Linked DNA regions of Homo sapiens: region 1 is linked to region 2. The links come from fine-mapping of genetic effects on gene expression. A gene starts in region 2. The other region holds a variant in brackets. All regions are shown on one strand. Distances are from middle to middle. Region 1 has its middle 7.2 kb from the start of POU2F2-AS2. Region 2 holds the start of CXCL17 (C-X-C motif chemokine ligand 17).

Region 1 (5,373 bases), 300 kb before region 2:
TCTCAGCTCACTGCAACTGCCACCCCCCAGCAAGCAATCCTCCTACCTCAGCCTCCTGAGTAGCTGGGACCAAAGGCACATGCTACCACACCCAGCTAAGTTTTGTACTTTTTGGTAGAGACAGGATTTCAACATGTTGCATGGGCTGGTCTTGAACTCCCGGGCTCAAGCGATCCTCCCTCCTCAGTCTCCCTACATGCTGGGGTTATAGTCATGAGCCACTGTGCCTGGCCTGTACTCATTTTTTTAATTAAAATTAGAACATATTAAATGATACACATGCAGAAAATCAAATAAATGATTATCCCAAAAGTGAGAATTGTAGTTACCTCCAGCAGAGAGGAAGGAGTATGTTTGGAAAGGGACACACGGGGTGGGGCTTCTGGGTGCCTTTGACATCTCCACCCAAGTGGTGAATGCACAGATGTTCACTCGATCAAGATTCATTAAACTGGCCAGGGGTGGTGGTTCACACCTGTAATCTCAGCACTTTGGGAGACTGAGGCTGGGTCACTTGAGGCCAGGAGTTTGAGACCAGCCTGGCCAACATGGTGAAATCCTGTCTCTGCTAAAAATACAAAAAATTAGCTGGGTGTGGTAGTGCATGCTTGTAATCCCAGCTACTCAGGAGGCTAAGGCTTGAACCTGGGGGCTGAGGTTGCAGTGAGCCGAGATCAAGCTGCTGCACTCCACCCTGGGCAAAAGAGCAAGACTCTGCCTCAAAAAAAAAGAAAAAATTCATTAAACTGTACATTAACGTCTTGTCCAATGACTGTGTGCTTCCTGTGGGCAGGGGCCAATCATTGCAATATCATCTGTTTCCCCATCCCCATTTCACTGCCCAGAAACAGACTTAATATAAGTTGTGTGCTCAGTAGGGAGTGCCCATCACGGCAAGCGCTCAGGAGGGCCAAGGCCGCTGTCCAGGGTACTAACGACCCAAGCCTGGGAGGCCACAGAGAAGGCCAGCAAAGCGAGCCAGCTTCAAGATGCCTCATTCTGAAGGGCCCCTGCCCACCTCAACTCCTCTCTCCCCACCCCCTTCACTCACTTCCTCCAAGCTGTCTGCCTTTCTGTTCCTGCAATCCACGCCCGCGCTTCTTCTTGCCTCAGGACTTTTGCTCTTGCCCTTCCTCCTGCCCAGTGCAGTCCTTCCCCAGGTGTTCCTAAGGCTCGTCCCCTTACTTACTCCAGAATTACACTTAAACACCCCCTCCACAGAGAGGCCTTTTGACATCCTGTCTCACATGGCACTTCTCATCACTACGTCCTCTACCAGGTTGCACTTTCTTCTAGCACTTTTTGCTGTCTCACCTTCAAGCCTCGTGTCACGTGCTTGTTTATTACCTCTTTTCCCCCAAACTGAATGTTTATGCCAGCACAGGGAGCATGTGTGTCCCATTATGTCTCATCCTGTCTTTTAGAAGGATCCCAGGTGCACAAAATTGGATTAATCATAATCCTTGGTTCACAGCGTACTCCCATCACTGGGCTGGATGGAGCCCTCTTTCTCTATCCATTCACTTATTGTTTTACTTATTTTTAATAATGAGTTAATGTGAACCCACATTCACCATTCAGATTAGAACCATGATAATAATCATACTAGCCTGTGTCTGTCCTCTTCACTGCTGTGTCTCCAGCACCTGCAACCCAGGAGGTGCTTGGTATTGATTTATTGAAGAAGCTGACAAAGGGGCAATGACCTCCACACCCTGCAAAAGGGAGCTAATGGGAGTGCCCACCTGGCCTCACAAGGCGGGAGAAGAAGGCAAAGGCCAGGCCCTCCACTCAGTTCCCCTGTCCTCCCCTGGTGCTCCACTCCTGCTCAGCCTGGGCAAGCGCCTCTTCCACACGATTCAGTTCCACATCTTCAGGGAGGGCCCACTGTGCCAGACCTTGTGCCAGGAGCTAGGGACACAGGGTGGCTCAGCTTGGCCATGCTCCTGAGGAGCTCTCAAGCCTCGATGCTCCAGGCCCCTAGACCATCCCACTATTCTACTAAGTAACAAGAGCAGCTACATGGCACCTGCTCTGTGCAGGCATATGTTATGTGTATTCTTTGCATCATCTTTTGGCATCTTCCCAACAATTCACTAAAGCAGGGGCTGTTATTATCCACCCCCTTTTCAGAGGAGCACCCCAAGGCGGGTCAGAGAGGGCAAGGACTTGCCCAGACTCAGTCATGGGCAAGCCAATTCCAGAGCCCAGCTCTCCTTGCCCCAGGCCTTGCTGTTACACTGATCCCATGCACATTTCTCTTCCTCCAAAGTCTGTGAAGTCCTGGGCCTCTTGCATCTCTGCAAAAGCAACTGAGGATGGCTGAAAAGGTGTCAACTTTAGAGTCACATAAATAGGTAGTTAAGTCCCAGCTGTGGGGCTAGGTGTGGCCTATGTGTCACTTGGCCCATGTGTCACATTCCTGAGGGGATGAAATTAAAACAAAATGTGTATTTTTTACTTTATAGTTGAATGACACTGCCAGACCACACCACCAGTAAGATAGTATGCATTTTGTTTTAATAAATCCTGAAATGACCTTATAAATATCAGTTAACGTGGCATTTTATTGTTGTCATTGCTAAAAGCACAGGTCTGTAAATCCATTTCAGTATTCCTTCGTTCTTAGTACACTAGGAGGCTCAAGAATTAGAAG[C/T]TGCCTTGGCCTCTCTCAGCCTCTGCAAAGACTGCTGAGTCCTAGCTGTGCAACTTTGAGCAAACCACTCAGCCTCTCTGTGCCTCTCTCAGAACTGTGCGGACCCTGAGCAGCATCCACAGAGGGCCCTGCCTACAGAAGGTGCTCTACATTGATTCAGAGGAGTTTAACTTAACGGAACTGTATTAGCCCAGATCGCATGAGACACAGTGCCTGTCATCGTTGAAGCAAACTCTGAGCTCTGGACATTTGAAGGAAAGTGAGGGATCAAGGAAGAAGTCTAGGTTGTTGTTGTGACAACCATTTACTGAGATGGACACAAGCTCTTGGAAAAGCTTGGGAGAGGGAATCAAGAGTTCTGCTTTAGGCTGGGTGCAGTGGCTCATGCCTGTAATCCCAGCACTCTGGGAGGCCAAGGCAGGTGGATTGCTTGAGGTCAGGAGTTCGAGACCAGCCTGACCAACACAGTGAAATCCGTCTCTACTAAAAATACCAAAATTAGCTGGGCATGGTGGCACACACCTGTAATCCCAGCTACTCGGGAGGCTGAGGCAGAAGAATCACTTAAACCCGGGAGGCGGAGGTTGCAGTGAGCTGAGATTGCGCCACTGCACTCCAGCCTGGGTGACAAAGCGAGACTCTGTCTCAAAAAAAAAAGAGTTCTGCTTCCCAGGAGGTGGAGCTTGCAATGAGCCGAGATCGCGCCACTGCACTCCAGCCTGGGTGACAGAGCGAGACTCCGTCTCAAAAAAAAAAAAAAAAAAAAGAAAAAAAAGAGTTCTGCTTTAGACAAGTTAAAGAGAAGCCCTCCACCTACTATTAATATTTAGAAGCATTTTCTCACTGAATCTTCTCAATACTCTACAAAAAAGCATTGTTAACATCCCCATTTTACAGAGGAAAACACTGATGCCCAGCAAAGTTAAATCACTTGGCTGGAGACACAGATGGAACCAGGATTGGCACCCAGGAAACCGGACTCCAAAGTCCACATTGCCATCCACTGTTCTCTTCCTCTCCCTCAAACCCTTGCCCACCCTGTCCCATTGGCTCAGCAGAAACACTGGCCTTGGACCTGGGCTTTGCTGTCTGAGACATCCATGTATCTCCCATCCCCGTCCCCAGTTATGGCCTTCTGCCAATATGAACCATTCACTGAGTGCCTTCACATCACCTGCCCACCTTGATTCACAACAATTCTGGGATGCAGATTGCACAATGCTCCCCAGCTCCACTTTGTGGGGCCCTAGCAGATTCTCCGAGCTCATACAGAAAGACCAGCTGTGAGGGGAGCCAACACCTTCAAATCTACTCGCTCCCTACACCACCTTACTCAGAGCTCACCTCCTCTGTGGAGTCTCCTAAGGGAAGGCCCCCCCATTCACATCTGTGCAAGATCCCGGTCTGGCAAGAAACTTCTCAGTGCCAACCAGGCACTTTAGGGTTCACATGGAGAACATTAAATATAAGCAACCCAGGCATCTGCCTCATGGAGGCTTCCTGCAGCCTCCTAGGGAAAAAGTAGCACCTGACCTGGTAAGAGGAAAAGCTCAGGTTTGGAAGGGTCAGACTCTCACTCTCTGCTCTCCACTTCTTTGAGCCTTGATATTGTCACCAATTCCAAAAGCGCTGTCTGATTCCTCCACTCCTCCCACTGCAGTCCAGGCCACCACCACCTCTGGCCTGAGTGACTTCAGTGGTCTCCTCCCCGAAGGTGTCCCTTCTTCCATGCCTGTCTCAGATAGTCTCGTCTCCCCTTGGCCCCCAAAGGGGGTCTTTCTAAAACGTAACCAGGTGGTGTCACTCCCTTGCTTAAGATTCTCCAGGAGCTTCCCATGCATTTGGGAATAAAACTCAATCACCTTAACCCAACCTATAAAGTCCTATGTCATCTCACCCCTGCTGACACCTCTCATCTCTTCCCCCATCACTCACCTCTTTGCCTACCCTGCTCCAAGCCATGCTGTCTCCTCTCTGTTCTTTAAACCATGCTCTTTGCAACCCCAGGCCCTTCGCATGTGCCATTCCCTCTGCCTGGAACACTGTTCCTGTGCTCTTTGCCCCATTAAATCCTACTCGTCTTTTAAGGTTTGGCTTAAATAACTTGCCCTCTCTCCTGGCTCCCTATTCTAGTTTATTCTTTGGGATAGACTTATCAGTTCCTGATTTTGTATTTGATTGATGTTTACACTTAAAGATCTGCATCTTCTCTAGTTGTCAACTCCATGAAAATACACCATGCTGGTTCTGCTGCCTGCTACATCTTTAGTGCCCAACAAACGCTGGGCACATAGTGGGTGCTCAACAGACAGGTGGAATGAATGACTTAAATGGATCCTGCATAGGGACAAGCACCTGAGGCAGAGTACTTAAGTCTTCGAAGCCTCAGTTTCCACTTCTGTAAAATCAAGATAATAATTCCTCCTTTACAAGATAGTGGTGAGGATCCAAATAGTCAATGAATATTGACAGTGCGTTGGGAAAAAATCCTCTGCAAATACAAAAGCTTAAAGACCTGGAACCTAGAGGATGGGCAGGAGTCAGAGAGAAGAGCAACAGGAAAGGGCATGGCCATTTATCAGGTGACATTGTGTTTTGTATTTCCCCTTTCCCTGACCCCTATGAGGTAGTAGTTATGACCCAGAGGAGGAAATAAGGCTCAGACAGGAGAAGCCCCCTTCCCAGGGTGTCATGGTGAGTCCATGGAAGAGCCGGGA
Region 2 (5,373 bases):
ATGTATGTGATTAAGAGATAAAATAAGATTAGACTTTATTCTGAGATTTATTTTGGGGATGGAGGAGCTATTATTTCCTTTAGCCACTAAGTAGCTCAGACTCAGGCCTGCACTGCAAAACTTTGCTTGGCTGGGAAACAAGATTTGAGCCCGGCCGCCACCCACTCGACGTGGTTTGTGATGGCGCCCCCTGGTGGCGCAGGGAGCTTTCCCCAGTTCCTCACCCTCGTGCTTTAGGAGCGACTTAGAAACTACTCAGTCCATTTATTAAACCCTTTCTAGGACACGCTGCGGATCATTTAATCTTCACAAGTGTGTGTGACAAGTGGTATTTTCTTCATTTTAAGATGATAAAACTGAAACTCAAAAAAGTGAGGCGACTTGTCTAGGGTTGCAAAGTGTGTGGCAGAGCCAGGATCTAGGTCCCCCTGACTTCCAAGCTGAGTGTAAAGGTCTAGGTGAGTCTAAAAGTGTGGCCATGCAGAGAAGTATTGGTGTAGAGCAGTGGTTGTTGACCAAGGGTGGTTCCCCCTCCGGGGTCATTTGGCGATGTCTAGAGATATTTTTGGCTGCCATAACAGGGGTTTGGATGAGGGAGAGGGGAGGCTGCTATTGGCATGTAGGGGAGAGAGGCCACGCGGATGCTGCTGAACATCTCACAATACACAGAACAGCCCCCACCGCAAGGAACTGTTCAGCCCAAATGTCAGTAGAGCTGCTATGAAGCCCTGGTTTGATTTAGCAACCTGAGGATGCATTCTTGCAGTTAGCTAATGTTTGCTGAGTACTGAGCTGGATAGCGTGAGGGATATGGAAACAGTGCACCAGTCTGTGTCACCAAGTAGTTTGCAGCCTAGAAGGACAGGGGGTGGGGGCAGGAAAGGCACATGAAGGCCCTCAATATAAGGCAGCAGATGATAAGTGCAAGAAGAGAGTGTCCAGCAGGGCTAAGCCAGCGCTCAGGAGGGAGACCACATGTCTGGCTGTGGGAGGAACTGAAGGAAGCTGTGGGAAGGTGGTTTTGAGCTGGGTGTGTGAGCAAAGTTGAACTGGTGGAAAAACACAATACCTGTTCAGGGAAGGGCAAACAGGTTAGTTTGGTTGGAGAAATAGTATTTTTAGTGAGTAGAGGGAGGTACACTAGAAAGGCAGGTTGGGGCTACAGCTTTGAATCCAGGCAGAGGACTCTAGCCTGGGTGTCTGTCATAGTGATGGAAAAGTCTTCCCTTTCAGAACAGTGGTCTAGGCCCTAGGGCTATGGGGCTTAACAGCTTCCAGAGCACTCTCTCTACAAAGGAGGGGATGTTGGAAATTGGGGTGGAGAAGGGAGAATGCCTCCTGATTTTAGGACCAAGTTGATGCTGAGTATGTAACATAGCCATTTCACCTCAAAGTGGCCTTTGGGGAGATGGTGCTCACAAGCGGAAATATACATGGGGATCAGGTCTTTTCTGCGTGGTTGCTCTGTGCAGGGCTGGGCCACTTTATAGTGAAAGCTGGAGCAGATTTGGAACCCCTAAGCTAAAGTCGGCTTCCCAAAATGTGAGCTGTTACAGCAGGGCTTGCTATGGATAAAGCTTCAAATATGGACACTACCTGGTGACAGGCTTTTTCTAGTTTATTACGTTACCAGTAAATAGCATTAAGACATGTTGGTGGCATTCCAGTGCACTGTAAAGAATAGAAGCAAGGACTTCCTGATCTTCTATAAAGGTACCATTGCCTTCAACACTCTCCCACCATCATCATTAAGTTTAGCCATGAGAATTATGTTACTCTTTTGGAAAAGTGTTGGGGGAGAAGGCATGGGAGCAAATCTTTGTTGAGCTAGTATATACATACATACGTACGTGTGTGTGAGGGGGATCAGCTACAATTGCAGATATCTTCTTTTCTTTTCTTTCCTTTTTTTTTTTTTTTTTTTTTTGAGATGGAGTCTCACTCTGTCACCCAGGCTGGAGTACAGTGGTGCCGTCTCGGCTCACTGCAGCCTCCACCTCCTGGGTTCCAGCAATTCTCTGGCCTCAGCCTCCTGAGTAGCTGGGACTACAGGTGCGTGCCACCAGGTCTGGCTAATTTTTTGTATTTTTAGTAGAGATGGAGTTTCACCGTGTTAGCCAGGATGGTCTCGATCTCCTGACCTTGTAATCCGCCCTGCCTTGGCCTCCCAAAGTGCTGGGATTACAGGAGTGAGCCACCGCGCCCGGCCAGTTGCAGATATTTTCACATACAATATCTCGTTTAACTCTCTCAACATTGTTTGGGTGTAAGTACAGTTTGCTGTTTTTTTGTAAAGGAGGAAACTGGCATTGAGAAAGGCTCACTTGCCCCATCCCCCATAGCTAAGAGAAGCTGCATTTTGATGTGTCTGTGGCCTGTTTTGCCACATTTCTCCCCCCGTTTTCCCCTTCATAGACAGTCTTGTTTACCTGGATTCAGGCTGCTAGAGACCATGGACATCAGCATTAGTGGCAGCAACAGGAGGAGGGAAGAGATTAGAACTTTCATCGCAACTGTCGGTGCAGCTGTAAGTTGCTTGAAGAATATAATGGAAGGTTCCCTGCTGGAGGCTCCTGATCCCTGGGGATGACTCAGGTCAGGATACTCAGCCTGGTGGTCTATGCTTTAGTCCCAGGCCAGCGTTCCCATTTGAGGGCGAGAACAGGTGAGGTGACGCTGTCTTGCTGTTACGTAACAGATTAGACCATGTGCTTTATGGGAATCTGGGAGGTGAAACTGGTCAAACAAAAGAAATTCAGCATTCTTAAGAACATAAGAAGGTGACTGATAACTTGGCAGCTGTGCCAGTTCTCTCCTGTACTCTTTCCCGCCTCCTCACACCCCAATGCCTCATGATTTCTTCCTCAAATCTTTTTTTCTTGCTTGGATTTCCTTATACCTTTCAATGACCCTCTCTATCTGAATATTTGGCAGGAAAGTGGATACTAAGTGTTGGTAGAAGAGACTTTGACAAGGTCTGTTTCCCCTCTGTGCTCCTGCTCCCATCCTTGGCAAAATATCGGCAATAGTAGTGTTGTTGCCTGGGAAGTTGCCCTGTCCTCTCTCTGTTCACAATTCCCTCCAATTCTGCAGCCACATAAGATGGCAGCAGAGCAGGATCCGGGACAAGAGGCAGCTCCCCTGCCGAGAACACCGCCCCTGGAGCAGTGGGTGACACCAGGCCTCCTTGTGTGTCCATCGGGAAGGTGGCCATGGCTTAGTTGTTCTGGTCTAAAGGGGAGGGAACTGGGTTGGGGGAAGAGACCCCCAGAGCTTTAGGTCTCAGAGGGTTTGAGAAACAGGAGCCACAGGAGGGAAGGAGCCCTGAAGTGTGTTTGCCCAGCTGCTGGGGCGCCTGGCTCCAGCCCTTGTTTGGAAATGGCCCCGGGCAAAAGAAGAAAGGTAATAATACTTGAAGTAAACATTAGGGGCATAGAATATCAGCACTCACTAAACTTGACATTTATTTGAGACTTTAGGAAATGTGCTCAAAGGGAGAGGAGAGGCTGGGCTTGAATGCTGGGTGATATTCATGGGGGCTGAAGGGAAGGCTAACAAGGGAGCCCTTTTTTTGGAAGCCTCCAGGCAGGAGTGAGAGCAGGGGGTGTGACTTTATTTCCCTGAGAGAAGGAAAGAGGAAAGGCATGAGTCAAAGCCCTTTGGTTTTGTTTGACCATTCTTTTTTCTCCACGTTTTCAAATTATCTCGGCCTGTTGACTTGTCACAGAGTTGATTGTGGACTTTGCTACTGCAGTGTTTATAAAGCACTGCAGGGGCCAGGGACTGCTATGACTGAGCCTGTGTCCAAGTTGAAGGCTCAGGGTGGGCCTAAGCTTGTTCTGATGCAAATCACTGATGTGGCTTCTTTCTGGAAAATTCTAAAACCAGGGAGATGACATCCATTTCATAAAGCCTAGAGATATGGGTGCAGTCATCTCTCAAAGTGGCAGGAGTGCAGGGGGACTGAGAGGGACTTGGTTGGGTGGAACTTGAGCTGGAGTTGGGGGAGGATTTGGGTTGGTGGAGGGCAGAGAGGAGGGCCGTGCAGAGCAGGGGCGTGTTGTAGGAGAGGTGCCTCCTGGAGCTCATTGGATGGGGATTTTAGAGGACAGGAGCTGTTCGTGTTCATTTTTGTATTGCTTGAACTTACACAGGGTCTGGCACTTTGGGAGTATTCTATAAATGACTGTTGAATGGAATGATTGTTTTGTAGCCCATTAACTGGGCCTGATGTATTAGAAAGTGTGCGAAAATGTAGCCCATTAGCAGAAAGAAAATCTTACTGAAAAACCATCCCATGTACAAATGGAGCCTGGTGCGGCCACTTTACTTATGCTGCTGAGTTCTGCATCAGTCCACACCCAGGCCACCGCAGGGGCCGGGAGCTCCTCCTCAGACCTACCTCCCGTGCCTCAGTCTCTTTACCCCTCTGTTCTTCCAGGTCCTGCTCCCTCTGGTTTCCCCTCCATGCACTTGGGGTGGGTGTTGCATCCTGTGTCCCATTGGAGGGGGCTTCCGGTCTGTTAGGTCTATTAATATAAAACACCCCCAAGACAAATGGACTTTTTTCTTGTTAACATCACAACTTCTTATGATGCATCTCAAGAACATTATTTGTGTCAAGAGTCTCTCTGATGTACAGAGGCCCTCCATTCCTCAGGAGGAGGTAAGGGGAATTTGGGAGAAAACACCGCCCTGCCTGGGTTACTTATTTCCCTATTCTACAGTGTACTTGGTAGACATTCAAAAATATTTGTTGACTTTGTCCATGATCCACATGGCTCTCATATAGTCATTTATTCACACATACATTCAGTGAGACTTTGAGCGCCTAGTGTGTGCCTGGTATTTACTAGATGGTGGATGCTGAGATCAGGTGTGCTGCTGTCTCTGAGGAGCTCTCACTATACAGTGGCACCTAGGGTGACCGAATCCACCTGCCCCACTTTACAGACATGGAAATTAAAGTGCAGGGAAGTTATAGGATTAGTTCAACAACACAGTCAGTAGCCTCAAAGTTACAGGAGTAAATCAAGTTTTCTGACTTGCTGGATTTTCTATTAGTGTGCAGCTACCTGGCTGCTGCAGGTGTAGACGTGGTGAGCTCCGATAGGAGAGAGGACGTTCAGAGTGAAATGGGAGCCCTGAGCACCCTGGATTAACCGGGAGGACATACCGGGTCCAGCTGTGACCGCACAAAGGACCATCAGGGATATTTGTATTCTCTTTTTCACTTTGAGCTTGAAATGAAGAAAACTGACCCCAGGAAACCAAGAGTGGAAGATTTTTCACAGGGGATTAGTGAGATGCGTCAAAAAGCCTGTGTTGGATGGGTGCCTGTAATCCCAGCACTTTGGGAAGCTGAGGTGGGAG

Evidence for each region. PIP is the estimated chance that this variant, and not a neighbour inherited with it, causes the effect.
Region 1: its variant is the best candidate, but not a certain one, in a credible set for the expression of CXCL17 in esophagus mucosa (GTEx, PIP 0.65).

What each region holds. Positions count from the first base shown.
Region 1 is chr19:42,142,631-42,148,003 of GRCh38, forward strand. It overlaps a transcript of POU2F2 not described here. Among named protein-coding and RNA genes, the nearest start is that of POU2F2-AS2, 7.2 kb to the right of the region's middle. The variant C/T (reference allele first, on the strand shown) is at 2,657.
Region 2 is chr19:42,440,325-42,445,697 of GRCh38, forward strand. CXCL17 (C-X-C motif chemokine ligand 17) reads right to left here and starts at 2,622. Exons shown (of 4, transcript NM_198477.3): 1 at 2,430-2,622. The coding sequence starts at 2,508. The region is part of intron 1 of LIPE-AS1 (LIPE antisense RNA 1); the gene reads left to right. RefSeq lists a silencer at 51-140.